Linked DNA regions of Homo sapiens. The protein of the gene in region 2 interacts with the protein of the main gene of each other region in a pairwise test. Each region holds a gene or a part of one and is shown on either strand. Other genes may lie near its edges. The genes, in order: ADAMTSL4, JOSD1, NOTCH2NLC and KRT31.

Region 1 (7,026 bases), on a different chromosome or scaffold from region 2:
CACTGGGAGGGGCAGGGGAAGTGATGAGTAACTTCTGCTTTCTGAGAAGTTGGTAGTCAGGATATGGGAGCCGGCTGGGGGCGGAGGGCAGTGTTGCAACACCCCCTCTGGCTCCAGTCTGACGTCCCTCCCCTGGCCTTTGGTTTGCAGGCCCTGGCTGTATCTGCTGCTGCTTCTGTCCCTCCCTCAGCTCTGCTTGGATCAGGAGGTGAGTTCTGGACAAGTGAGCAGCTGCAGCCTGCCTGCCACCCTTTCATCTCCCCCTAGGCTCCCACCCCATCTCTCCAGGCCACGCCTCCATTCCCCACAGCCCACCCACCTCCCCTGCCAACTCCCCAGTTCCTTGCCTCATAACACCAAGAGGCCGAGGTGTAGTTCTCCCTCTGCTGCTGAATGTGACCTTGGACTGGTAGCGACTCCGTGAGCCTCAGTGTTGGTCTACATGGACACTCTGGACAGTTCCCTCTAATCCTTCCAATTCTGTCTGACCTTTTTCTCTATATAGGTGTTGTCCGGACACTCTCTTCAGACACCTACAGAGGAGGGCCAGGGCCCCGAAGGTGTCTGGGGACCTTGGGTCCAGTGGGCCTCTTGCTCCCAGCCCTGCGGGGTGGGGGTGCAGCGCAGGAGCCGGACATGTCAGCTCCCTACAGTGCAGCTCCACCCGAGTCTGCCCCTCCCTCCCCGGCCCCCAAGACATCCAGAAGCCCTCCTCCCCCGGGGCCAGGGTCCCAGACCCCAGACTTCTCCAGAAACCCTCCCCTTGTACAGGACACAGTCTCGGGGAAGGGGTGGCCCACTTCGAGGTCCCGCTTCCCACCTAGGGAGAGAGGAGACCCAGGAGATTCGAGCGGCCAGGAGGTGAGAGGCCTGGGTGGAAGAGGTGGGCCTTGGGCAAGGTGGGGGCTTAGCATGAAGGAAAGGGGAGCACGGGTGGCTTCAGAGGGCTTGTCTTTGGTGCCAGGAAGTAAACTGGGGAAACAGGGTCAGAGGTGGTCAGAGCTGTGCCCCCACATCTGAAACACCTTCTCAGGTCCCGGCTTCGAGACCCCATCAAGCCAGGAATGTTCGGTTATGGGAGAGTGCCCTTTGCATTGCCACTGCACCGGAACCGCAGGCACCCTCGGAGCCCACCCAGATCTGAGCTGTCCCTGATCTCTTCTAGAGGGGAAGAGGCTATTCCGTCCCCTACTCCAAGAGCAGAGCCATTCTCCGCAAACGGCAGCCCCCAAACTGAGCTCCCTCCCACAGAACTGTCTGTCCACACCCCATCCCCCCAAGCAGAACCTCTAAGCCCTGAAACTGCTCAGACAGAGGTGGCCCCCAGAACCAGGCCTGCCCCCCTACGGCATCACCCCAGAGCCCAGGCCTCTGGCACAGAGCCCCCCTCACCCACGCACTCCTTAGGAGAAGGTGGCTTCTTCCGTGCATCCCCTCAGCCACGAAGGCCAAGTTCCCAGGGTTGGGCCAGTCCCCAGGTAGCAGGGAGACGCCCTGATCCTTTTCCTTCGGTCCCTCGGGGCCGAGGCCAGCAGGGCCAAGGGCCTTGGGGAACGGGGGGGACTCCTCACGGGCCCCGCCTGGAGCCTGACCCTCAGCACCCGGGCGCCTGGCTGCCCCTGCTGAGCAACGGCCCCCATGCCAGCTCCCTCTGGAGCCTCTTTGCTCCCAGTAGCCCTATTCCAAGATGTTCTGGGGAGAGTGAACAGCTAAGAGCCTGCAGCCAAGCGGTGAGTCTCCTCGGGCCTCCCCTCCCAACCCCGACCTCCAGTGTGGCTTCCCTGCCCTGAAGCTGGGTCTTCAGCTTCCGCTTGGCACCTGAGGGAGAAGGGCCTTGGCATCTGACCACCTCAGGGCAGGGGTCTTGGAGCTCTTCCGCTGACCTGAGCCTCCCACCTGCTCCCCAGGTTCAGCCCTGCCCCTACCCTCATTTTGCTCCCCAGCTCTGACTCCTTTGTACCCCTCACCGCAGCCCTGCCCCCCTGAGCAGCCAGACCCCCGGGCCCTGCAGTGCGCAGCCTTTAACTCCCAGGAATTCATGGGCCAGCTGTATCAGTGGGAGCCCTTCACTGAAGGTGAGGTTTCTTGCTCACCCCTGGGCAGTGGTGGCTTGGAATTGGGGATGAAGGGGAGAGGAGATACCTGCTTACTCCCAGCCCTGAATGACTTCCAGCCCCTCTGCTTCCCCTGCGCCATGCCTTCTTTCTTCTCCCTGGGGCTGGGTCAGGAGACAGCACAGGTGGTGAGTGGTCTGCAGAAGGGTCGGGGTGGGAGGAGGAGGTGTGGGAGACACGCTTTGTCCGGACTCCCCTGGGAAGGCCATCACTGGGGGTCAGGTGGCTGTGACACAAGAGGGCCATGGTGGGAGAGATCCTGTCCAGCCGTGACAGCCAGGTGGGGGTGTGCCACGCATCCTGGGCACTGTCGTATCGGTTGCTCCCAGGTTACCATCCGCTTCATTTTAGGCCTGTGTTAACTTGACACCGGGATAAGCACTCAAGAGCTCTGAACACACAGAATCATGGGCATCAGGGATTGCTCCTCTCTCAGTTCAGAGTCCCCTTGATGGTCTCGGTGACCTCAACTGACCTGACCACCTTTTTTTTTTTTTTTCTGAGACAGAGTCTCACTCTGTCACCCAGGCTGGAGTACAGTGGCACGATCTCAGCTCACTGCAACCTCTGCTTCCTGGGTTCAAGCAATTCTCCTGCCTCAGCCTCCCGAGTAGCTGGGACTACAGGCATGTGCCACCACGCCTGGCTAATTTTTGTATTTGTAGTGGAGATGGGGTTTCACCACGTTGGCCAGGCTGGTCTTGAACTCCTGACCGAATGATGCACCCACCTCGGCCTCCCAGAGTGCTGGGATTACAGGCATGAGCCACTGCGCCCGGCCCTGACCACCTCAGCTTGTGCTGTTGTCACATTTCCTTCATCCACAGTGACCTGGGCAACCTCAAGGTGCCCCCTCTGGGGCCTCTCTCAGCTAACCTCCCACCAGGGAGCCCACTAACCACCCTTCTACCCTGTCCCTTAGTCCAGGGCTCCCAGCGCTGTGAACTGAACTGCCGGCCCCGTGGCTTCCGCTTCTATGTCCGTCACACTGAAAAGGTCCAGGATGGGACCCTGTGTCAGCCTGGAGCCCCTGACATCTGTGTGGCTGGACGCTGTCTGGTGAGGGAAGACAGTGTGTGTGTGCACACACACATGCATATGCACACAGACACATGCCCCCATATGCATACACATGTACACACATATGTATGAACACATGCACACATGCAAGCACATACACACACGCATATGCGCACAGACACATGCACACACGCACACACACACACGCACACACACGCATATGCACACACATGCACATGCATATGCAGACACATGCATGCACATGTGCACACGTGCATGAACACATGCACACACACGTATGCAGACACATGCACACACATGTAGACACACATGCATGAACACATGCACACATGCACACACACGTATTTGCACAGTCTCAATTCAACAACAAAACACCATACTGAGATCACTGAGGGAGAATTCTCACCTGCCAAGCTGCGCTGAGCAGAGCCTGAAGGATCTGATCGGGCACCTGTCCATGTCCCTGGGTCTGGCTGGGGATGGTGGGGCTGTTTTTGTGCTCTCACTTGTGGCACAAAAAGCAGGGTAGTGAGCTGAGGCTCCCGAGGGGACCGGGGTGGGGTTGAGGTGGTGTCTGGCGTTCTGTGGCCACTGCCTCACCTCACTCTCTCCAGAGCCCCGGCTGTGATGGGATCCTTGGCTCTGGCAGGCGTCCTGATGGCTGTGGAGTCTGTGGGGGTGATGATTCTACCTGTCGCCTTGTTTCGGGGAACCTCACTGACCGAGGGGGCCCCCTGGGCTATCAGAAGATCTTGTGGATTCCAGCGGGAGCCTTGCGGCTCCAGATTGCCCAGCTCCGGCCTAGCTCCAACTACCTGGGTGAGCACCCAGCTGCCTCCCCTTCCACTTCCGTCTCTGTTCGGCCCTCCATACCCCTACTCAGAGCAGTGAGCAAGCCAAACAGGGGGAAGTCCAGGGCCTAGCCCCTCCCCTCGTGGAAGGAGTGAGGAAGCTGAGAGGGCTTGGGGGGATCTTAGGTTCTGGTGGGAGCTTCTATAGGCTAAGGACACGGTGTGGGAGGAGGAAGGTATTATCACCCTGGAATTTCCCGATCTCTCACCTCTGACCCGCAGCACTTCGTGGCCCTGGGGGCCGGTCCATCATCAATGGGAACTGGGCTGTGGATCCCCCTGGGTCCTACAGGGCCGGCGGGACCGTCTTTCGATATAACCGTCCTCCCAGGGAGGAGGGCAAAGGGGAGAGTCTGTCGGCTGAAGGCCCCACCACCCAGCCTGTGGATGTCTATGTGAGCCTGGGGCCAGGGGCAGCTGAATGCTGGGGAGGGAGGCTGTTCCCTCTGGGCAGAGCTGTGGTTGTCAAGATGGGAGAGAGAGCTGGTGGCATCCTCTTCTGGCCACCCCCACATATTCATTATCTTCTCTTCTCCCCAGATGATCTTTCAGGAGGAAAACCCAGGCGTTTTTTATCAGTATGTCATCTCTTCACCTCCTCCAATCCTTGAGAACCCCACCCCAGAGCCCCCTGTCCCCCAGCTTCAGCCGGGTAAGACTCTGACCCCTGCACTTGGAAGGAGGAGGGAGAGGCTGCAGGGCTGGCTCGGGGCAGTGGGGTGGCATCTGATTCGCCTGCTCCCCTGCACAGAGATTCTGAGGGTGGAGCCCCCACTTGCTCCGGCACCCCGCCCAGCCCGGACCCCAGGCACCCTCCAGCGTCAGGTGCGGATCCCCCAGATGCCCGCCCCGCCCCATCCCAGGACACCCCTGGGGTCTCCAGCTGCGTACTGGAAACGAGTGGGACACTCTGCATGCTCAGCGTCCTGCGGGAAAGGTGAGACATCACAGTGCGTTCCCCGCATCTCGGTCCAAACCCCCCAACTGACACTCCCGCATCCTGGATTGTGGGGCCACGCCCGACCCTGCGTCTGGGACACCACTGAGCTTGGGCTCTAGCCTCCTGCCTCCCTGGCTGCCTTCTCACCCACTCAGGTGTCTGGCGCCCCATTTTCCTCTGCATCTCCCGTGAGTCGGGAGAGGAACTGGATGAACGCAGCTGTGCCGCGGGTGCCAGGCCCCCAGCCTCCCCTGAACCCTGCCACGGCACCCCATGCCCCCCATAGTGAGTATGGGGGAGCCCACGGGGAGGGTTAGGGTACTGGAAACACAGCAGTTGCCCCCAGAATCTTACCTGAACTCTGCACTCAACGCAACATCTCCTGGCTGCAGAGAGACAACATTAGATTAGAAAGGCAGACATTCGGTAGGCAGCAAGAAAGCCATGGCAGGCTGAGCCCCCCAGGAACCCAGACTCCAAACGCCAAACGTGCCCACTCTCCTCTGAGGCCCCCACGTCCAGTGTGTCTTCCATCTCTGCTGCCACGGCAGCCCCACACATCTCATCTATGTCTCCGCCTCTTCCCTGCCCTGCTGGTGCCTGCAGCTGGGAGGCTGGCGAGTGGACATCCTGCAGCCGCTCCTGTGGCCCCGGCACCCAGCACCGCCAGCTGCAGTGCCGGCAGGAATTTGGGGGGGGTGGCTCCTCGGTGCCCCCGGAGCGCTGTGGACATCTCCCCCGGCCCAACATCACCCAGTCTTGCCAGCTGCGCCTCTGTGGCCATTGGGAAGTTGGCTCTCCTTGGAGCCAGGTGAGTTTGCCCAGGCAAGGAGGTGCTGGGGAGGGGAATGGGCACAGGTGAACAACAGCAGTGGTTTTTCAACTTCTTTTTCATCAGCAGAAACTATTTACAAACAGGGTTTCATATGGACCCCCAATATAGAAGTCAGATAAGGGACTGAACCAGGGACTGGGGGCCCAGGGCCCTAGGGCTCAGCCTCCTCCTCAGCCCACGAAGCCATGTGACTGCTGGGCTGGGGATCGAAGGCAGAGCCTGGTTCTGAAGCCTAGAGCTGGAAGCTGGCTGAGAAGGTCTGGGAAGCCCAGCTCCCTGGATTCCCCTCGCCCCCTCAGTGCTCCGTGCGGTGCGGCCGGGGCCAGAGAAGCCGGCAGGTTCGCTGTGTTGGGAACAATGGTGATGAAGTGAGCGAGCAGGAGTGTGCGTCAGGCCCCCCGCAGCCCCCCAGCAGAGAGGCCTGTGACATGGGGCCCTGTACTACTGCCTGGTTCCACAGCGACTGGAGCTCCAAGGTGAGCCCGGAACCCCCAGCCATATCCTGCATCCTGGGTAACCACGCCCAGGACACCTCAGCCTTTCCAGCATAGCTCAATAAACTTGTATTGATCAAGCGCCTGCTATATGCCTGACCCTGGGAACTCAGAGATAAGTGAGAACAACTTCCATGAGGGGCCCGGCTAGGATTCCTCGTCCGGGCCTGGTACCCGGGGACATTCCCAACCACCCAGGATTCGGACCCAGGATGCGTCCCTCCCTGCCCCCCTACTGTCCCTTGTGCCAGTCACCAGCAGGCCCCTCACACAGGCCGCTCTCCTCCTCCGCAGTGCTCAGCCGAGTGTGGGACGGGAATCCAGCGGCGCTCTGTGGTCTGCCTTGGGAGTGGGGCAGCCCTCGGGCCAGGCCAGGGGGAAGCAGGAGCAGGAACTGGGCAGAGCTGTCCAACAGGAAGCCGGCCCCCTGACATGCGCGCCTGCAGCCTGGGGCCCTGTGAGAGAACTTGGCGCTGGTACACAGGGCCCTGGGGTGAGGTAAGCTGAGCGCCTGCTGAGAGCAGGAAGGGGGTGCCAGTCCCAGTGGGATTCCTTGTGGGCACTTGGGGTGCTCTCTGTCCTCCCCTCCCCTCATCACCCTGCCCTCCCCCTACACTAGTGCTCCTCCGAATGTGGCTCTGGCACACAGCGTAGAGACATCATCTGTGTATCCAAACTGGGGACGGAGTTCAACGTGACTTCTCCGAGCAACTGTTCTCACCTCCCCAGGCCCCCTGCCCTGCAGCCCTGT
Region 2 (7,026 bases):
AACTGCTTGAACGTAGGAGGCAGAGGCTGCAGTGAGCCGAACATAGGAGGCAGAGGCTGGATGTCACCACTGCATCCAGCCTGGGTGACAGAGTGAGACTCCGTCTCAAAAAACAAACCAACAAACAAAACAAAACAAAACCCCATGCTCCTGGCCGGGAGTGGTGGCTCACACCTGCAATCCCAGCACTTTGGGAGGCCAAGGTGGGAGTATCGCTTGAGCCTGGGAGTTAGAGACCAGCTTGGGCAACATGGCAAAACACTGTCTCTGCAAAAAATACAAAAATTAGGCGGGCATGGTGGCATGTGCCTATGGTCCCAGCTACTCGGGAGGCTGAGGTGGGAAGATCACCTGAGCCAGGGAAGTCAAGGCTGTGGTGAGCCATGACTGCACTCCAGCCTGGGTGATAGAGTAAGACCCTGTCTCAAAAAAAAAGAAAAAAAAAAAAAACCCACAGAATTAAAAACAACAAACATACTCCTGCCACTGCTTAAAACCTTCTGATGGCACCTAAAGCACTTAAATACACTCTAAACTACTTCCTTTGGCATGCAAGGCCCTCAAGGTCCTGCAGATCTCATCTCTTACCTTTTATTACACTGACCTTCTTACTGTTCCCTAAAAACAAAGCTCTTTTTCTCACTGTGCACTCATGCACTCACTGTTCCCGCTGTCTAGAATGTTCTTTCTGTAGTTCCTTATTGTTTGGGTGTCAAATGTTACTGCCATAGAGAGGCCTTTTCTTTTTCTTTTTTTGAGACAGAGTCTGGCTCTGTCGCCCAGGCTGGAGTGCAATGGAGTGATCTCAGCTTACTACAACCTCCGGAGAGGCCTTTTCTTGACCACCCAACCATAAGTTTCTCCCAGTCACTACCTCACATCAACCTTTTGATTTAATTACAGCCCTGTCACTACCAGATGTGTTTCTCATTGGTCTGTTTTTCTACACTAGACTGACAGCAGGGGCCTTGACTATCTGTGAACGCTACACTGCTAGGGGCCTAAAGAGTGCCTGGCACAAGACAGGTGCTCAAGGAATGTTTGCTGAAATGTTCAGTGTTTATTTTTGTTGTCCTTCTCTTTCCCTGTAAACATCAGTAACTGACTCTTAAAAGGGCTTATATGCTCATCTCCAGGGCTAGCAAAGAAATCTGCAACCAAACTTTATCTTACCTGTAATAATAACTATAACTTATTGAAAAATCTCTGTGCCAAGCACTATGATAAGGTACTTTAATTTGCATTTCATTTAATCTTCACAATAAACCTATGAGGATATGAATTATTTCTATTGTATAGGTCCATAAAACTGAGGTTTGGTGGTTTTAACTGACCTGCCCATGAGCACTTGCAAGTGACAGAACTAGGATTCCACTGTGGATTCATTTGAATCCAAAGTTATGCTTGCTGTCTTACAGCAAGGACCCAAGAATCAGAGTGGCAGGGGATGGGGGCTTGAAAAGAAGAGAGGCCAGCTACATCCCTGAGGACTAGGGATGAAACATAGCTTAAAAAGACAAAGGCTCTCCATGGGTACTCACACGTTTGGATTAAATGAGAACACACTGCCAGGTGCAGTGGCTCACGCCTGTTATCCCAGCACTTTGGGAGGCCGAGGTGGGAGGATCACTTGAGGCCAGGAGTTTGAGACCAGCTTGGCCAACATAGTGAAACCCCATCTCTACTAAAAATACAAAAAAATTAGCCAGGTGTGGTGGCAGGTGCCTGTAATCCCAGCTACTCGGGAGGCTGAGGCAGGAGGATCGCTTGAACCCGGGAGGCAGAGGTTGCAGTGAGCCAAGATCATGACATTGTACTCCAGCCTGGGCAACAAGAGCAAAACTCTGTCTCAAAAAAAAAAAAAAAAAAAAAAAAGAAAGAAAAAAAGAGAACAGAACACATATGAAAGAAGGCCTAGCCCCTGATATAATTGGTTCCTTTCCCAAGTTTCTTGTTCCTTTCACTGAAGTCTCTGACCAGTACATGAATGAAGGCTCCAACAAGGAAAATGCTGAGTCTTCCACCTCATTCACCATCTAACTCCCTACCAGGCTCAAACCTTAGAGCGGCGCTTCCCAAGGGTGCTCCTGGAGATGCCATTTCCATGTTCATTAACAGAGGATCCCAGAAGGCATCCAATACAATAACAGCTGAATGAACCAAGTAGGTAAATGGGTTTCCTGCAGAATTCTTGGAGTCCCTAACATGCTAATCTTCACTTTGAATCTCAAGGAAAGGGGATTATAAAATATGCTTCAGTTCCCAAACAAATTTGACCACACATTTGTTTTGAGGTGTACCTTACAGAACTAGCTTTCCAATGATCTTTCTTCCCTGTCCTTCATCTTCTGTCTTGGATTCAAATCCTTTCCTATTACCACTCCATCTCTCTCCTAACCAGAGGCTCCTTACCTCACACCTTGACTTCTGAAACAGATTCCTAAAAATTGATCACTTTGCTTCCAAGCGCTCCTTCCACCAATTCAGCCTCTATGTTCCTGCCAAATTCACCAAGGCATCAATTCACTTCCCTTTGTATATATAGGAACTGACAATGGTACCAACTGCCTGGTTGGCCAGTTCTACACTTCCTGGCCCCACTTGGCCAGCTATATCCCTCTCACTGGGCTTAGTGCACTTTAGGCACCATGATCATATGGCCTTTATTCTATTTTTTCTTCCTCTGTCACCTAGGCTGGATTACAGTGGTATGATTGTGGCTCACTGTAGCCCCAAACTCCTGGGCTCAACTGATTCTCCTGTCTCAGCCTCCCTCTTGAGCCACTGTGCCCAGCAGCCTCTATTCTTTTATCCTATTTCCTGTTCCAAGCCAAATCCTACAGCTCCTTCACACCCTATCTCTTCCATAGGATCTTCCCTGGATCCTCTGTAAAAAAGGGAGGGAGAGTGAGGACCATACATATCTGAGTTCATATCCTAGCACCGATCAACACTAACTGTGGGATTTAATCTCCATGCCTGTTACCTTGCCTGTAAAAATGGAAATAATTACTATTTTATAGGACTGTTGGAGAATTCAGTTATTTCATATATGTTCAATCAAACACTAAATCCCTGGATAGTTTTTTACTCTATATCCCTCACAGCTAGGCACTGGCAACTCAATAAACACGTTAGGCAATTTGAATACAGGAAATATTGAGTAGCTTCCATCTCATGCTAGAGGAATGGTCATTTGAATAAGTGGGGCCCACCCAGCGTATTCACCACACCAGCACTTGCTTGTACTTTTAACAGTAATCAAGTGGCCACTGTGTTAGCTGCTTTTATGGGCTTTATCACTTCCAGCCATCTTGAGATACCATAAACATGGAAGCTGAGGTGCAAAGGTTATGGTGACTTGCACAGTCAGGCACAGCTGGTGAGTGGCAGGGCTAGGGTCAGCCTCTACCCTAAGACAATACTGAAGAGTGCTCTGGATATTTCAACACACCAGTCCCACTGAGTTCCATGGGATCCTGATGATTCCAGTGGAAAGTATTCTTGAGACTCCTTGGCAAACTCCTGTTTGGGACTGTCTTAATGATTTCCATAGAAATTCTGGGCTACAAAGTGAGCCTCTCACTTCTGTCATCCACAGCCAGAGGTTAGAGCCATGAGATGTGAAGTGATGTAAAAGTGAAAAGACGGGCCAGGCGCAGTGGCTCAGGCCTGTAATCCCAGCACTCTGGGAGGCCGAGGTGGACGGTTCATGAGGTCAGAAGATCGAGACCATCTTGGCTAACACGGTGAAACCCCATCTCTACTAAAAATACAAAAAAGTAGCCGGGCGTGGTGGTGGGCGCCTGTAGTTCCAGCTACTTGGGAGGCTGAGGCAGGAGAATGGCCTGAACCTGGGAGGCGGAGCTTGCAGTGAGCCGAGATCATGCCACTGCAATCCAGCCTGGACAAGAGAGCGAGAGACTCAGTCTCAAAAAAAAAAAAAAAAAAAAAAGTGAAAAGACGGGTTCTAGTCCAGGTCTCCCCACTGTCTGTGTCCTCAGATAAGTCCTTGTTCCTCTCTCATGGTTTCCACTGTGTCTGACTATGGTGATGATTTTGGATATTAATGAAAAAGGAGATAGGAGACATTTCATCAAGATTCTTTTCCCCGCCCTAATTCTTTCTTTCCTTATCAGATCTGAAGAGATGTGACATCAGAAAATATGGCTCAGAACTTCCTGATGTTTCTAAATCAGGCATGGGTCAAAGAGCTAGGCACACATTAGTAATCCGTAGGTGTTAGCTATTATTACTACGTGTTTGCCTAGCCCTTGGACAAGAGAATTCAAGTCTCTAGAGGTTAATACTTAACAACAACTTTTCTCAGTTATAACCACCATACTTCTAAATGTGGCCCCTTCCACCTGCTCAAGGACTATGTAATGGGGAGGCTGGAATAGTCATCCTCTGTGGTAGAGAATGCTAATTGTTCACCAATATCCCCAATCTCTTTGCTCCTTCCAACTTTCATTAGATTTTTTTCCCTTGATACCAAGCTACTTTTTGCCTAGTTTTTTTTTTTTTTTTTTTTTGAGATAAGGTCTCACTCTTTTGCCCAGGCTGGAATGCAGTGGCACGAACATGGCTCACTGCAGCCTCGACCTCCTGGACTCAAGCCATCCTCCTATCTCAGCCTCCCAAGTAGCTGGACTACAGGCGCGAGCCCCCATGCCTAGCTAATTTTTAAATTTTTTGTAGAGATAGGGTCTCACTATGTTGCACGGGCTGGTCTCAAACTGCTGGACTGAAGCCATCCACCCAACTCGGCCTCCCAAAGTGCTGGGATTACAGGCATAAGCCACCAAGCCCAGCCGTGGTTAAATTTTAATATTAAATATCCAAGGCCGGGCACGGTGGCTCACGCCTGTAATCCCAGCACTTTGGGAGGCCAAGGTGGGTGGATCACGAGGTCAGGAGTTTCAGACCAGCCTGGCCAACATGGTGAAACCCCGTCTCTACCAAAAATACTAAAATTAGCCGGATGTGGTGGCGGGCGTCTATACTCTCAGCTACTCAGGAGGCTGAGGCAGGAGGATTCCTTGAACCCAGAAGGCGGAGGCTGCAGTGAGCCCAGATCACGCCACTGCAATCCAGCCTAGGCAGACAGAGCAAGACTCCGTCTCGGGTGGGGGGAAAAATCCTATTTGGGAGAGGAATGCAGAACTAGATGTAAGAATCTGATCACTAAAAAACTGGGATGAGTCTAGTGAAAATGTTTCAGGCCTGAGCATTTTCAAAACCACCTAGCAAAGCTGCCATCATGTAATTTGATTTCTATGACCCTTTTTTTCAAACCTTATACCCCCCCTTTTTTTTTTTGAGAGATGGGAGTCTCACTCTGTTGCCCACACTACAGTACAGTGGTGCGATCTTGGCTCACTGCAACCTCTACCTCCTGGGTTCAAGTGATTCTCCTGCCTCAGTTTCCCGAGTAGCTGGGACTACAGGCGTGTGCCATCACCCCAGCTAATTTTTGTTTTTTTTAATAGAGACATGGTTTTGCTATATGTTGGCCAGGCTGGTCTCAAACTCCTAACCTCAGGTGATGTGCCCACCTCTGCCTCCCAGAGTGCTGGGATTACATGCGTGAGCCACCGTGCCTGGCCCACATTCTTTATATAAAATGATGAGATCTAATATCTACATCTGTATACATATACACTGATGACACTTGCCCAGTTTATCTTTTCTCCAATTTCACAGGTTGAAAACAGATGCTTTTTAAACAAATGACCTCTTTTTGCAGATGTTACCACTATGTTCAAATCCTGGACCAAGCCTCTGACACACCTGACTCCTCTCTTCCTGTCCTTGTTGCCGCCATGTTGAGTCATTAGCTCAGCTCTGAGTTCCTATTCACTTGTAAGCATGAATCATCTCACATCCACAACTCTATTGAAACTCCACCCTGCTTTTGTATTTTGCTTCTTTTTTCTGGCTAAAATTCAACTGCTAGGATGAACTTCCTCTCAACAAATAGTGCTTATCAACATTTCCCTCCCATTTCTACCATTCACTAGCCACACTTTTAAACAGCATAGAATTATATCTGCTAAGGTCCAAATTGATCACTTTTCACTTTTTAATTGCTCTGAATGCCAGGGTTCTAACTTCACTTAAATCTAGTCTCAAGGCCTGGTTAAAGCATAGCTGAGATGTGCTTCTCAGGGGCTGAGGCCTGTTCGACTCGTTTTCTCTATGGTGCCTCATAGTGCCTGGCACTCTGCAGGCAGCTAGTCAATGTTTGTTTAAAAAATTCCATCTTCTCTCCCTCACCTCTTCTCCCTTTGCTTTTTCCTCTAGATTCCTTTCACACTTCTGTATTTTTTGTTCCTACCTACTCATACATTCTTTCAATATAAAATACTCTACACAGAATTCCACTTCTGGAGTTGGGACAGAATACATGCCCTTATGTGCTGGCTTGCCAGCACTTTTTGGATCTTTATATTATGCTGCTAGAATTGGGGAATGCAGTACAATTTGCTAAAGCTTCAAAAGGAATAGGATCTTAGTTCCATGTGGGCATTTAGCAAATATTTAGCATTCTTGTATTCAGGAGAACAAAGCTGAGAAACTCTTGTTATCATCCACACACACTTGATGAGCACAGTCCAGAACGTCAGTGCTGGCCCAGCTCAGCAGCTGGAGGAACAGCTACTGATAGCACTCTACAGGCGCTTCCAGTACTCGAGAAACAGGAGAGCGGTTAGCGGGGCAGGTTCTAGAGTCAAAAGGCGTGGGGCCAAATTCTGCCATCAATAGCTGTGAACTCTGTGCCATGATTTCCTCAACTGGAAAAATGGGCAGCAACAGAATCCATCTTGGAAGATCAGTGTGAGGACTGAGTGGACACAAGGAAAGCACTCAGAACGGTGCTTTGCACCAAGTGTTCATGTGTGTTAGTGATCCTATCATTATTCCCATAGTCAGATCAGGGGCCAAATGTACAGAAGTGAAAACTTTTCTACCAGAGTGTGACTGGATACACAGAATCTTGTTTCTGGAATTTATTTACTAGTA
Region 3 (7,026 bases), on a different chromosome or scaffold from region 2:
ATTGACATCAGTCTCACACTTCTGCCCTGTGAAGCCTGTGAGGCATTTGCAGGAGAACTGGTTGGCCACAGTGGTACAGGTACTTCCATTTGCACAGGGATGAGACAGGCAGGCATCGGTCCATTGGCACTCCTTACCTAAAGGAAGGATAACAAAACTCAGTACTGGCCACAGAAATAGGAGATGGCCCCATCCTCAATACCTCATTGACATCAGCGAGCTCTTGCGTGGAGAAGACCTCAACTCTTTGCATTTTACTAAAGGCTAAATCAGAGCCTCCTCAAGGTCATCTGACACAGAGCCCTCTCCAGTAACTCTCCAAGGACCTCAGCAGAGACACAAGGACTCAGTGGGTGGAGCACCTGGAGGCAATTGTAGGTTAGTCACATTGAAGCCCAATCCTGCAGGACGCTATCAGCAATAGGAGTCTGGATCCATCTACTCTCTCAGAGCTGTCTTTGCATATGCTGCTCCTGTTTGAATATCAACTTCCGGGCCAGGAGCAGTGGCTCACACCTGTAATTCCAGCACTTTGGGAGGCCGAGGCAGGCAGATCATGAGGTAAGGAGTTCAAGACCAGCCCGGCCAATATGGTGAAACCCTGTCTCTACTAAAAATACAAAAATTAGCTGGGCATGGTGGCGCGCACCTGTAATCCCAGCTACTTGGAAGGCTGAGGCAGAAGAATCACTTGAACCCAGGAGGCGGAGGTTGCAGTGAGCCGAGATTGTACCACTGCACTCCAGCCTGGGCAACACAGCAAGACTCCATTTCAAAAAAAAAAAAAAAAAAAATCAACTTCCCGTCTGTTTTCCTAGTGAACTCTCCCTATCTTGGCAACTCTAAAGTTCCAACCTCTGTAAAGTCATCCTTAGTGCCCCTCACATACATACATGTGCGCAAACACAGATACACCAAGTTTGCTATTTTCTTCTATTATACCACCTGCCACACTGGCAGGGTTGGGTCTCCATGGTATGCTCTCAAATCATGTCTGTTGAATGGATAAAATATATCGATATTTTCCACAAAATATAGTTACTAAATAGACCTCTGGTGATAGAAACAAGTCAATACTACTTCTGTTTCCTCTAAATGTAACACACACATATATTCTGGGAAACATTTTATTAATTGTGGCCTTGCTATAAATATCTGTTGATGTGTTTGAAAATGATGAAGGACCTCTGGGTCCCTATATAACAAATGAAATAGAAGCCATCAGGAGGACAGAGGTCTCGAAGGTATTCCGTGGACTTTCTCAAGTAGGAAAGTACCAGCACTAGCAGGAAGACTCTGACGGGTTGAAAACTAAATCATGATGCCAGGGGAAGCAAAGCAGATTCTTTGAGGCAGAAAGAGAAAGAGAAAAAAATATCCTCACAGAACTAGTAAATTTGGTATTCACATGGCTGGCTTTTTGTTGTCATTAGTCTAAGTCGCTTATTATTTAAACTACAGAGATGAGAACTCCTTGAATTATTATTATTATTATTATTATACTTTAAGTTCTAGGGTACACGTGCACAACATGCAGGTTTGTTACATATGTATATATGTGCCATGTTGGTGTGCTGCACCCATTAACTCGTCATTTACATTAGGTACATCTCCTAATGCTATCCCTCCCCCGTCCCACCACCCCACGACAGGCCCCGGTTTGTGATGTTCCCCTTCCTGTGTCCAAGTGTTCTCATTGTTCAATTCCCACCTATGAGTGAGAACATGCGGTGTTTGGTTTTTTGTCCTTGCAATAGTTTGCTGAGAATGATGGTTTCCAGCTTCATCCATGTCCCTACAAAGGACATGAACTCATCCTTTTTTATGGCTGAATAGTATTCCATGGTGTATATGTGCCACATTTTCTTAATCCAGTCTATCACTGATGGACATTTGGGTTGGTTCCAAGTCTTTGCTATTGTGAATAGTGCCGCAAGAAACATACGTGTGCATGTGTCTTTATAGCAGCACGATTTATAATTCTTTGGGTATATACCCAGTAATGGGATGGCGAGAACTCCTTGAATTTGTTAATACTCCAGTTGACTGTCTAGGAAAGTATCTAAATCTCTGACCTCATAGAAAGGTAAATGGGAGACACAAGAGTTTTTCTATAAGGGAAAAAGATGCGAGATGTGACATATGAGCACAGAAAAGTGCTCTCTGCCTATCAAGGAATGTCAAATCAAAGGAGAAAACTATAACACAAATTTAGGCACAGCATATACATCTCAGGGAGCTAAGACAGAAAATGAAGGAACTGCAATTCTTCTTGTCTTTCCACTCATGTCACTAAGAGGCACTTATTTACAGTGGAGAAGAGATATAAATGCTCACTTCTAGCAAGTGTGATTTTCAGAGTGATGCCCACAACTGAAACGGAAAGATCCCTGGGCCGGAAGTGGTGGCTGATGCCTGTAATCCCAGCACTTTGGGAGGCTGAGGTGGGCAGATCACTTGTGGTTAGGAGTTTGAGACCAGCCTGGCCAACATGGTGAAACGCCATCTTTTCTAAAACTACAAAAATTTGCCGGGCTTCATAGCACATACCTGTAATCCCAGCTACCTGGGAGGCTGAGGCACAAGAATCACTCGAACCCAAGAGGTGGAGGTTGCAGTGAGCCGAGACTGCGCCACTGTACTAAGCAACAGAGTGAGAAGAAAGAAAGACAGAAAGAGAGAGGGAAAGAGAGAGAAAGAGAGAAAGAGAGAGAAAGAAAGAAAGAAAGAAAGAAAGAAAGAAAGAAAGAAAGAAAGAAAGAAAGAAAGAAAGGGAGAAAGAAAGAAAGAATCAACCCTGAATTTGGTTTCCATATACATTATGTATAGGCACTAACTTGCTGCCTATGCTTCTTCATCTCTGAGTGGAGATGAGCTAGTAAGCTGACTGAGGTATAGCGCTATCACAAAAACCAAAAGGATGACCTTGATCTGTGATGATTCCTAAAGTGATAGACAAAAATAGCATATGTATAAAAGATGATCAGAATCGGCCGGGTGTGGTGGCTCACACCTGTAATCCCAGCACTTTGGGAGGCCAAGGCGGGTGGATCATGAGGTCAGGCGATCCAGACCATTCTGGCTAACAAGGTGAAAGCCCATCTCTACTAAAAATACAAAAATTAGCCGGGCATGGCGGTAGGTGCCTGTAGTCCCAGCTACTCAGGAGGCTGAGGCAGAAGAATGGCGTGAACCCGGGAGGTGGAGCTTGCAGTGAACCGAGATTGCGCCCTGCACTCCAGCCTGGATGACAAAGCAATACTCCATCTCAAAAAAAAAAAAAAAAAAAAAAAAGGTGATCAGAATCTTGCAGAACACACCAAAAAGAGATCCTTCTTAATTTGGGACCATTTCAGAGTGACATTTTAATTATGAAGAAGGCATTACTGTCATTTCCACTAGCCAGAATTAAAATATTTTAAGTGGGTATATGCCCCCCTACTTTGCCTCCTAATAGCAAAACAACTCAAAACTGACAATCAGGAAGAAATTATTCTTATAACACCAAATATTTTCAGTGACTTACATCATCAATACCATCATCATCATGATGGAGATCATGGATCATCCTAACTACCCTCTACCCCACCAACACCTTTTGATGAATGATATGGTTTGGTAGTGTCCCCACCCAAATCTCAACTTGAATTGTATCTCCCAGAATTCCCATGTGTTGTGGGAGGGACCCAGTGGGGTAACTGTATCATGGGGGCCAGTCTTTCCTGTGCTATTCTCATGATAGTGAATAAGTCTCATGAGATCTGATGGGTTTCTCAGGGGTTCTGCTTTTGCTTCTTCCTAATTTTCTCTTGCCACCACCATGAAAGAAGTGCCTTTTGCCTCCCACCATAATTCTGAGGCCTCCCCAGCCATATGGAACTGTAAGTCCAATTAAACCTCTTTTCTTCCCGGTCTCGGGGATATCTTTATCAGCAGCGTGAAAATGGACTAATACAGTAAATTGGTACCAAGAGTGGGGTTTTTGCGAGAGTGCCAGCTATCCCGAGGGAAACTTTGGAGGGAACCAGCTACTAGATGGTTCAATTAGTCTTTCGCCCCTACACCCAGGTTGGATGACCGATTTGCACATCAGGACTGCTACGGACCTCCACCAGAGTTTCCTCTGGCTTTGCCCTGCCCAGGCAGAGTTCACCACCTTTCAGGTCCTAACATTTGTGCTCATGCCCCACCTTCCCAGTGCAGAAAACAAGATGGGCCGGTGGAAAGCTGACCTGGCTACTGCCACCGCAGAGTGCCCAATTTGCCAGCAGCAGAAACCAACACTGCGCCTTTGATATGGCACTATTCCTCAGGGTGATCAGCCAGCTACTTGGTGGCAGGTTGATTATGTTGGACTTCTTCCATTGTGAAAAGGGCAGATGTTTGTCTTTACTGGAATAAACACTTACTCTGGATATGGGTTTGCCTATCCTGCATGCAATGGTTCTGCCAAGACTACCATCCGCGGACTCATGGAATGCCTTATCCACTGTCATGGTATTCCACACAGCATTGCCTCTGACCAAGGCATTCACTTTATGGCTAAAGAAGTGCAGCAGTGGGCTCATGCTCATGGAATTCACTGGTCTTACCATGTTCCCCAACATCCTGAAGCAGAACGGTGGAATGGCCTTTTGCAGTCACAATTACAATGCCAACTAGGTGAGAATACTTTGCAGGGTTGGGGCAAAGTTCTCAAGAAGGCTGTGTATGCTCTGAATCAGCGTCCAATATGTGGTACTGTTTCTCCCATAGCCAGGATTCACAGGTCCAGGAATCAAGGGGTGGAAATGGAAGTGGTACCACTCACCATCACCCCTAGTGATCCACTAGCAAAATGTTTGCTTCCTGTTCCCGCAACATTAAGTTCTGCTGGCCTAGAGGTCTTAGTTCCAGAGGGAGGAACGCTGCCACCAGAAGACACAACAACAATTCCATTAAACTGGTAGTTAAGATTGCCACCAGGACACTTTGGGTTCCTACCTTTAAGTAAACAGGCTAAGAAAGGCGTTACAGTGTTGGCTGGGACATCAAGGCTATCAAGACCCAGGCTATCAAGATGAAATCAGTCTACTACTCCAGAACGGAGGTAAGAAAGAGTATTCATGGAATACAGGAGATCCATTAGGGCGTCTCTTAGTATTACCATGCCCTGTGATTAAGGTCAATGGGCAACTACAACAGCCCAATCCAGGCGGGACTACAAATGGTCCCGCCTGGATGAATGAAGGTTTGGGCCTCTCCATCAGGAAAAAAAAAAACACAACCTGCTGAGGTGTTTGCTGAAGGCAAAAGGAATACAAAATGGGTAGAAGAAGGTAGTCATCAATACCAGCTACTACCATGTGACCAGCTGCAGAAATGAGGACTGTAATTGTCCTCAGTATTTCCTCCTTCTTTTATTAAAAACATGTCTGTGCTTGCACACACTTGTACTAAGAAAATATCTTCATTTTATTTCCTTTCTCCTTTATCATGTGACATAAGATTTATTGACTTCACATCAGCATTTAAGTATCGTTAACTTTATGTAAGAGTGTTTCAGTTGGGGACTGGTGTGTTTCCGGATGTACGAAGAATAGTTGTACTACATCAGGTGTAATTATGACCTAATTATTGTCTTTATTTGAAGATTATGTGTGATCTCAGGAGATGTGTATGGGTTCAAGTTGACAAGGGGTAGATTTGTGGTGGTTAAAACTGAGTGTGTCAACTTGATTGAATTGAAGGATACAAAGTATTGATCTTGGGTGTGTCTGTGAAGGTGTTGCCAAAGGAGATTAACATTTGAGTCAGTGGGCTGGGGAAGGCAGACCCACCCTTAATCTGGATGGACACCATTTGATCATCTGTCAGCAAATATAAAGCAGGCAGAAAAACATGAAAAAGCGAGACTGGCCTAGCCTCCCAGCCTACATCTTTTTCCCGTGCTGGATGTTTCCTGCCCTCAAATATCGAACCCCAAGTTCTTCGGTTTTGGAACTCAAGACTGGCTCTCCTTGCTCCTCAGCCTGCAGACAGCCTATTGTGGGACCTCGTGATCATGTGAATTAATACTTAACAAACTCTCCTTTATATATATATAAAGATTGCCAATATATATATATTAAGATTGCCACCAAGACACTTTGGGTTGGAATATATATACATACATATATATTCCATTAGTTCCATCCCTCTAGAGAACCCTAATACAATGAAAAATTAATATAACAGTATTCTACACTAACTGATCCAGTATAGTCTTCTGAGTACATTTTTCACTTTTTTGCTTATTGCATTTATAGAACTCTTGGTTTAGTGCTTAAAGCAGGAGAAAAAATGAAGAATGTTCCTCCTTTTCTCATCTAATTTAATAAACACTTTTGAATAAAGCTCAGACCCACCTAGAAAAACCCACAATCTATTCAGGTGAGATATGTGTAAAAAAAATTACAATAAAATGTGATACATAAAACTAATAAAACTTAGAGACCATTTGCCTAAAGGAATCATGAAAGGGTCACTAAGACACAGTTTTAAATAACATTGGACAATCACCAGTTGTAGAAAAGGGCATTCCAGGCAAAAGGGTGTGTAACTGTATGGAAGCAATAATAAGTACAACATTTTCAGGAAATAAGGAGAATTTGGTGTGACTAGGCCTAGATGCTTGTGGGGAGGCCAGGCTATAAAAAGATGTAAAGTCTAGGCTGTAGAGAGCTATGGAAGTCATGTAAAAGAGTTTGCAGTTTATTCTGCGGATGATGAAAAAATATTAGACATTGTAAGCAGGTGAGATTGTTAGAATATTTGCATTTATAATCAAAGATGTAGTAATATCATGGGTGAATGAGATGGGGAGAGAATAAAGGCAAGAAAACGTATTCAGAAACTACTTCAGAAGCCCAGGTGAGAGATAACATGGCCTTCAGCTACAGGGTAGCAGAGGAAATGGGAGGAATAGACAGGTGAAAGGCAACTCAGAGGTTGGCTTGGGTGACTGAGTTGAAATGAGGTCAGAACAAGGGACAGGGAGTTTCTAGC
Region 4 (6,935 bases), on a different chromosome or scaffold from region 2:
CATGCATATTATCATACTAGAATGCAAAGACTTGGCAGTGCAATTTCAGTTTGTACATCAAACAACTCTTGCTACCAAACCATTTATGTTTTAAATGATGGCCATATTATGTTGTCTGAGTTCTGTTTGAGCATGTCTAGTGTGAAGGCATAATTTCCTTTCCAAGGTATGCAATATTTGCATGGTGTCTAACTGTTACACTCACACGTGCATCATTTCATCAAACACGTCTGCCCATGTACTCACTTGCAGTCCTCGCTCTCCAGCAGGCTCCGGTATGTGTTGATCTCACACTCCAGCCGGGCACGCACATCCAGCAGCACCTGGTACTCCTGGTTCTGCCGCTCCAGGTCACTGCGGATCTCCGCCAGCTGGGACTCCACGTTGGTGATCAGGCTCTGCACCTGGGACAGCTGGGAGCTGTAGCGGGCCTCACTCTCTGTCAGCGTGTTTTCCAGAGAGTCTCGCTGTGGTGGAGAAGATTGGGAATGTCAGAGAGCTGCTCCTTCAAAGGGTTTCTTCACAGGATTACAAGGAAGTCACAAGCTCCAAGAGCTAAGGAGAGTGTGTGGCCCCAAGCACATCCCCGGGACTCTGCCTCCCAAGTTCCCGTCGCTCACCAGCAGGTCTGAACAATACACACCAGGTTGTGCTGGGCCTGCAGCTCGATCTCCAGGGCGTTGACTGTGCGTCTCAGCTCGATGATCTCCGCCTGGTAGGACTGCAGCTGCTCTGAGCTGGATACCACCTGCTTGTTCAGCTCCTCGGTCTGAAACACCCAAGGGGAGAAAGGATCAGACCCTGCCTCCGGGGCCCTGGGGGGCCTTGGGTCCTGAGGGGCCACGTGCTTAGATGCCCACCTGCGTGGTGAACCATTGCTCCACTTCCCTGCGGTTGGTTTCCACCAGGGCCTCATACTGACTCCTGGTCTCGTTCAGCACCCGATTCAGGTCCACAGTGGGAGCAGCATCCACCTCCACATTGAGGCGGTCTCCAAGCTGGCAGCGCAGGGTATTGACCTCCTATGGATGCAGAAAATACAAGAGTTACTATGCTCAGCAAAGAATGAACTCTAAGGAATGGCATTGCTTGTTGAAACCCTGTTAGTCTATTTTCTCGGAAAAGAAACTTTGAGTGGAGCAGTTTGTGACAGCTCAAGGCACTCCATGTGGCATAGCCCCCTCCCCACCATCTGCTGTGCCATGGCACTTGGCTTCAGAAAAAAATCCCAAAAGTTTGCTTGGATGCCACTGAAGGATGAACTAATTGATATTCAACTTTCCCAGTTTACAATTGGCTGTGAGGACCTCAGAATGCCAAAAAAAATAGGCTGTGCAATTTCAGACCATATATCAAAAAACTCTTGCTGTCAAGTAAGAGGTAAGAGCATGTCATGGCCCCTCCCAAGAGAGAGGAAGAATCTCACAAACACTCTTCACCAATACTTTGAAAGAGTAGAGACTCACATTTATAAGGTTTGATATTTTTTTTCTTGGCCTTTGCCAAAAAAAAAAAAAAAAGACTTTACAAAGCAATAACACTGCAATGCTAGGACTCATTCTACAACTATTGATCAACTGCAAGCACATGGAGCTGCTCCGGGCAACTCAAATAATGTGCTAGTTTAAAGTGAAAGATGTTTCCTGTCTGGGAACATGAACAGGTCTTATCTCTCTCCAATTTTTCTCTTACCGTGATGTTTTCAAAGGAAACCCTCAGTCTTGTACTCATACTCTGCATTCTGCTGCCCCAAATCACTAAAGCAACCCTGAGCCAGAGGCTGAGACAGGTTTGTGCATTTCTCATTTCTAGTCTCACCTGCTCATGGTTGCTCTTGAGGCAGAGCAGCTCCTCCTTCAGGGACTCCACCTGGGCCTCCAGGTCGGACTTGCACAGGGTCAGCTCATCCAGGATCCTGCGCAGACCGTTGATGTCCGACTCCACCAGCTGCCGCAGGGACAGCTCGGTCTGGTACCTGCGCAAGGACAGGGTCAGAGTACTACCTGGTAGATCTTCAAGACTCACAGGAATGATTTTTGATAACCTCATGTGCCTTATCTTTCCACTTTCTGTAATGAATAGGCCCAGGAGACAGAGGTTTCTGGAGGCTCCATCAATACCCAATATTCATCCCAAAACAAACAGATTGATGTGAGTCCTCATCCATTTTTGCATTTCTTTGCTTGGTTCTCCCCAGTCCTCTGCAGAATCCTTCACAACAAGTGGGTAGATCTGTTTTCAGATGGAAATCCCTTTTCTTTAAAGATTAAACAGAAGCAATTGACACTAGTGCAAATTCCGAACAACTCACTTGGTTCTGAAATCATCCGCAGCCAGCTTGGCGTTGTCGATCTGCACCACAAGCCTGGCATTCTCAGACTTGGTACACAGGATCTGGGGAGTGAGAGGTGGCTTAGTGAGGACTGAAAATAAATATGAAATCATCAACTTTTTAAAAATGACTTAAGCCATTTTGAAATAAAAGAGGAAGCAAGAATTATGACAGCACAGAAGCAAGAAACACACTTCTCTATCACAGACAGAATCACAGCAAACTCTCTTGCTTGGAGATGACAGCAATGCCGCTCACCTTCTGCTGGAGCTCCTCAATGGTCTTAAAATAGGACTGGTAACTGGGGCACAGCAAGGGCTCCTGCTGCTGAGACCGCTCCCGGATGAGGTTCTCCAGCTCCGCGTTGTCCCGCTCCAGCTGACGCACTTTCTCCAGGTAGCTGGCCAGGCGGTCGTTCAGGAACTGCATAGTCTCCTTCTCGCTACCATTGAAGGAGCCCTCGCAGAACCAGTTGCAGTTGCTCACATTGGCGGGGATGTTGCAGGCCCCGGGCAGGGTGCAGCTGTGGCAGCTGGGGGGCACGCAGGGCCGGGAGGAGCAGCTGGTGCGGCAGCTCAGGCTGGGCAGGCAGAAGTTGTAGGGCATAGTGCTGGGAGGGAGGGAGGGAGTGCCTGGCTGAAGACAGAGTCTAAATTCTCCAAGCCACAGAGCTGTGGGTCTCCTTCCTCTAGGGAGCATTTATATCCCACTGCAGAGGGTGTGGACACAGTATGTAATGTCTTTTTTCTTTTTATTTCTTCACTTCTTTTCAAACGCCCTTTCCTTCAGTCTGTTATTTGCCTTCCTCTGAAGAGTCCCTTCTCCCATAAAATTCTTTACTTGGGCTTCTTGCTAAGTCAGGACTCCTCCGCAGACAGTCCACCCATGAAATCAGAGTTCTGTGGTAGGCCTTCAAAGAGGCTACACAGTCCAGCCCAAGTATCTGCCCTCATTAATTGAGGTGTTGATCCATCCGATGACATTCTTTTGTGTCACATAATTCTGCAGGCCCATAAACATACTCATGTCCTGGTCCACCTGCCGTTTCTAGGGAGAAACACGGATTGATTTGAGGAAGAAGTTGCATTAAGAGGCCACAGTGGACTGTCTTTCCCTCTGCATTTAGAGAAGAATCTTCAAATGATGGAGCATTCTGTGCCTTGGAAGCCTTAAGGTGGATGATTAGAATCAATGGAGGACACGACTGAAAAGATTAGACAGCGATTTGTGTTTTACGGGTCCGTGTAATACTTCCCCCCCACCACCACATATTACTTAAGAAAATTGTAGAGGAGAGAATTTTAAAGGTAGAGGCTTTGATAACTAGTTGGAGAACAAGAAGTTTCTGGGGTAAGAGATCGTTTTGAAAGAGGCTGAAAAGTGCAAACCGAGAGAGCCATAAAAAACACATTTAAGGCTGGGCACAATGGCTCACGCCTGTAATCTCAATACTTTGGGAGGCCGAGGCCGGCGGATCACGAGGTCTAGAGATAGAGACCATCCTGGCCAACATAGTGAAACCCATCTCTACTAAAAATACAAAAAAATTAGCTGGGCATGGTGGCACCCACCTGTAGTCCCAGCTACTCGGGAAGCTGAGGCAGGAGAATCACTTGAACCTGGGAGGTGAAGGTTGCAGTAAGCCGAGATGGTGCCACTGCACTCCAGCCTGGTGACAGAGCAAGACTCCATCTCAAAATACAAAACAAAACAAAAAAAATGCATTTAAATAATCTAGGAAAGATATTCAGGGGCAGAGAGAAAGGAATAAGGAGGTCTTTGTCAAACATTTCCTAAGGTTATCCATAGTATCCGAACAGAGTAGATGGATATGTTAGGAAAGTCAGGAGATAGCCCAAAGGGGCCTCCACGGCCTGAAATCACTTGTAGTTGATCTTTAAACTTCATATGAATTGACCCTATATTCCATAATATATCCATGTTGGCTTTAATCTTTATATATATATATATATATATATTTTTTTTTTTTTTTCAGATGGAGTCTTGCTCTGTCACCCAGGCTGGAGTGCAGTGGAGCGATCTCGGCTCACTGCAAGCTCCGCCTCCCAGATTCATGCCATTCTCCTGCCTCAGCCTCCTGAGTAGCTAGGACTACAGGTGCCCACCACCACGCCCGGCTAATTTTTTGTATTTTTAGTAGAGATGGAGTTTCACCGTGTTAGCAAGGATGGTCTCAATCTCCTGACCTCGTGATCCACCCGCCTCAGCCTCCCAAAGTGCTGGGATTACAGGCGTGAGCCACCGCGCCCAGCCAGCTTTAATGTTTTTAAAAAGCCCCTTTTAAATTTCCAGTTAAACTTTCAAATACTTTGCTTAATTCTCTAAGAGAAATGGATACATCAGGAAGATGTACCATATTCTGTCCTGGGCTTCCCATCTCCAGCCCGAGTGGAGATGCCACCTGCTTTAAGAACCAAAGGTCTAAAGGTACCAAAGGAGGTCTCTGTGGTTGTGTAATTAAATCCAAGGACCTGGGCACCAGGAAAGAAAATGCTGAGCACGGCATGAGCAAGGGGGTTTTGCAAGGCAAGCTGGAGTCATTTGGGGTTGCTTTGGGAGGTGAAGGAAGGCACTAGAAGATCTGAGGAAGAGGTAGCCAAAGTTCTGAATATATAAAAGTTGCAGCACCCCCATCTCCACTGTGGCTTTGGCTGCCAGCCAGAGCTGCCGTTTTATTGACAATTTATTGGAGTGCTTCTCCCATTGAGCTTTCATGATGGTATTCATGTTGCACTCTGCTTGAGTCTCAGATAAAAGGTCCTTCATCTACACTCCCCAAGACCATTATCACTGCTTATTATAATGCCATTCAGATGAAAAGCCCCACAGCACTACAAAGAAGATCTAGACTTATAATAAAATCAATACTTTCGTTTCCTTACAAGACAATTAAAGGGGGAGAAATAGGCGGGTCTACAGACTGTTACTCCTGAGACTCTCCAGAGGAAGGACGCAAGGCTAGGTGGCAGCTGTCTGTGGGGAGCTTCTGTCTCATTTCATCTGGGCTTGGGATGAATGGAAAGGCTCGTGCATCTGATTGATGAGCACTAGCTTGTAGATGACAGCATAGGCCTTCTGCTTCCTAACTCTTGTCAGCCTGCTCCAAGCACTGGCTTTCCAGCAAGCAGCTATTTCCTCAGCCCTTTCTTCTTCCCCAGTCAGGCAGGCTTTAACCTAAGCCCAAACTAAATGCCAGCAGTATTCTCCAAGCTCTTGATTCCTATCTACTGATTGGCTGGCATAGCCTCATGGAGACTGTAGTCAAAGAAGAGTGTTTAGGCTCTAAGTATGAGAAGATTCAAGGATTGTATTGACAAGAGAGCAAACATAGAATTTTTGTACAATGCAGAGAGATCAGAGAAATGGAAAGAGACGGAGACCAGGAGAGACAACAAGAAAAAGAAGAGACAAGGAAAAAAGTTGGGAGGAATCCTCAGCATCATGCAGCAAATCAGACAAAGTTAGCCCAGCTTCCGAGGGGCTAACCTGGAAAATGCAAAGCTGAGAAGAAGCCAAGACAAAATAAGCCAATAGACTGAGGAGTGGCCCACCGTGCTGAGTGTCCTGCAAGGCGTAAATGGAGTTGACTCATAAAAGATCTATGGACACAGGACTACAGCTTCTGAGGCCTCTGAAAGAAGTGACATTGTTCCAAGCTGTCCAGACCGAAGCATCACCTCTGTGATCAAGCTTGAGATTGTTTGTGGCTGAGAAATATACTGCCATCTACACACAGGCAGTGTAAAGTCTAAAAGGAGCGACACTGCCTGTTCCTGAAGGAATAAGAAGTGGGAAGAGAAGAAAGGAGAAATGAAGCAGGGAGAGTCAGTCCTGCACTGGCTGCAGGTCATGGCCAGTCAGCAGCCACACAGAAGATGTAGGAGAGAACAAGAAACCCCTGTTATCTTCTGGTTACTCCTAGATATTCCTTTTTCTACCTGCTGGTTGCCCTGCAGAATGTGAAATGGCACAAGAATTCAAGATGGGGACCACAGACAGACTAGCTGGTGAGTAAACACAATGCTGCCATCTCTTGTGAATCTAGCCTCTTTCTTGCAGTGTTTTCAAGATCTCAATGGGCTTGAGTGAATTTGCTCCTTGAATTAGTGGGGAAAATGGGACCCCAGGGTTGTAAGATCCCCATGACCTCACACAGGCGAGGGGTAGAATTCATGTATTCTCTTGGTTTCCTAGTTGGAATATTTGCAAATTTTTTTCATTCAAGGAGAAATTGAGCAGTCAATGGGCTATCAAACCCACATTCATTATCCAGTTCAATTTAATTCAGAACACATTGATTAGACAGCTTCTCTATGCTGAGCATATGACTAAACAGAAGAATCATAGTTCTGGTGAAAAAAATGTCTTTTTATGAACAATTCCGGCCAAGATGGGTCCTCAATATGTATGAGAAATAGCCAGAAGTTAAGGAAAGGAGATATTTAGAAGGTGTAAGATGGGCATTTAGAAATATGTTTGTATTCAGTGTAAATAGAAAACGGGTACTGGGTGCAGTGGCTTGCATCTGTAATCTCAGCACTTTGGGAGGCTGAGGTGGGAGAATCACTTGAGCCCATGAGTT

What was found.
Region 1: the proteins of JOSD1 (region 2) and ADAMTSL4 interact in binary tests that used the Homo sapiens proteins (3 or more experiments, as listed by UniProt).
Region 3: the proteins of JOSD1 (region 2) and NOTCH2NLC interact in binary tests that used the Homo sapiens proteins (3 or more experiments, as listed by UniProt).
Region 4: the proteins of JOSD1 (region 2) and KRT31 interact in binary tests that used the Homo sapiens proteins (3 or more experiments, as listed by UniProt).

What each region holds. Positions count from the first base shown.
Region 1 is NC_000001.11:150,552,393-150,559,418, forward strand, and holds part of ADAMTSL4 (ADAMTS-like protein 4 isoform 1 precursor), read left to right. Parts: intron 1-150; coding exon 151-208; intron 209-346; exon of another isoform or gene 347-505; coding exon 506-861; intron 862-1,033; coding exon 1,034-1,730; intron 1,731-1,736; exon of another isoform or gene 1,737-1,972; coding exon 1,973-2,075; intron 2,076-2,142; exon of another isoform or gene 2,143-2,173; coding exon of another isoform or gene 2,174-2,242; exon of another isoform or gene 2,243-2,340; intron 2,341-3,036; coding exon 3,037-3,173; intron 3,174-3,561; exon of another isoform or gene 3,562-3,660; intron 3,661-3,755; exon of another isoform or gene 3,756-3,769; coding exon 3,770-3,974; intron 3,975-4,215; exon of another isoform or gene 4,216-4,228; coding exon 4,229-4,401; intron 4,402-4,546; coding exon 4,547-4,658; intron 4,659-4,757; coding exon 4,758-4,943; intron 4,944-5,101; coding exon 5,102-5,231; intron 5,232-5,300; exon of another isoform or gene 5,301-5,332; intron 5,333-5,552; coding exon 5,553-5,757; intron 5,758-5,844; coding exon of another isoform or gene 5,845-5,900; exon of another isoform or gene 5,901-6,080; coding exon 6,081-6,257; coding exon of another isoform or gene 6,258-6,332; exon of another isoform or gene 6,333-6,356; and 4 more. UniProt on the Homo sapiens protein: Positive regulation of apoptosis. May facilitate FBN1 microfibril biogenesis.
Region 2 is NC_000022.11:38,690,931-38,697,956, forward strand, and holds part of JOSD1 (josephin-1), read right to left. Parts: intron 1-7,026.
Region 3 is NC_000001.11:149,456,602-149,463,627, reverse strand, and holds part of NOTCH2NLC (notch homolog 2 N-terminal-like protein C), read right to left. Parts: intron 138-7,026; coding exon 1-137. UniProt on the Homo sapiens protein: Human-specific protein that promotes neural progenitor proliferation and evolutionary expansion of the brain neocortex by regulating the Notch signaling pathway.
Region 4 is NC_000017.11:41,394,602-41,401,536, forward strand, and holds the start of KRT31 (keratin, type I cuticular Ha1), read right to left. Parts: upstream 3,008-6,935; 5' UTR 2,939-3,007; coding exon 2,591-2,938; intron 2,395-2,590; coding exon 2,312-2,394; intron 1,976-2,311; coding exon 1,819-1,975; intron 1,023-1,818; coding exon 861-1,022; intron 770-860; coding exon 644-769; intron 468-643; coding exon 247-467; intron 1-246.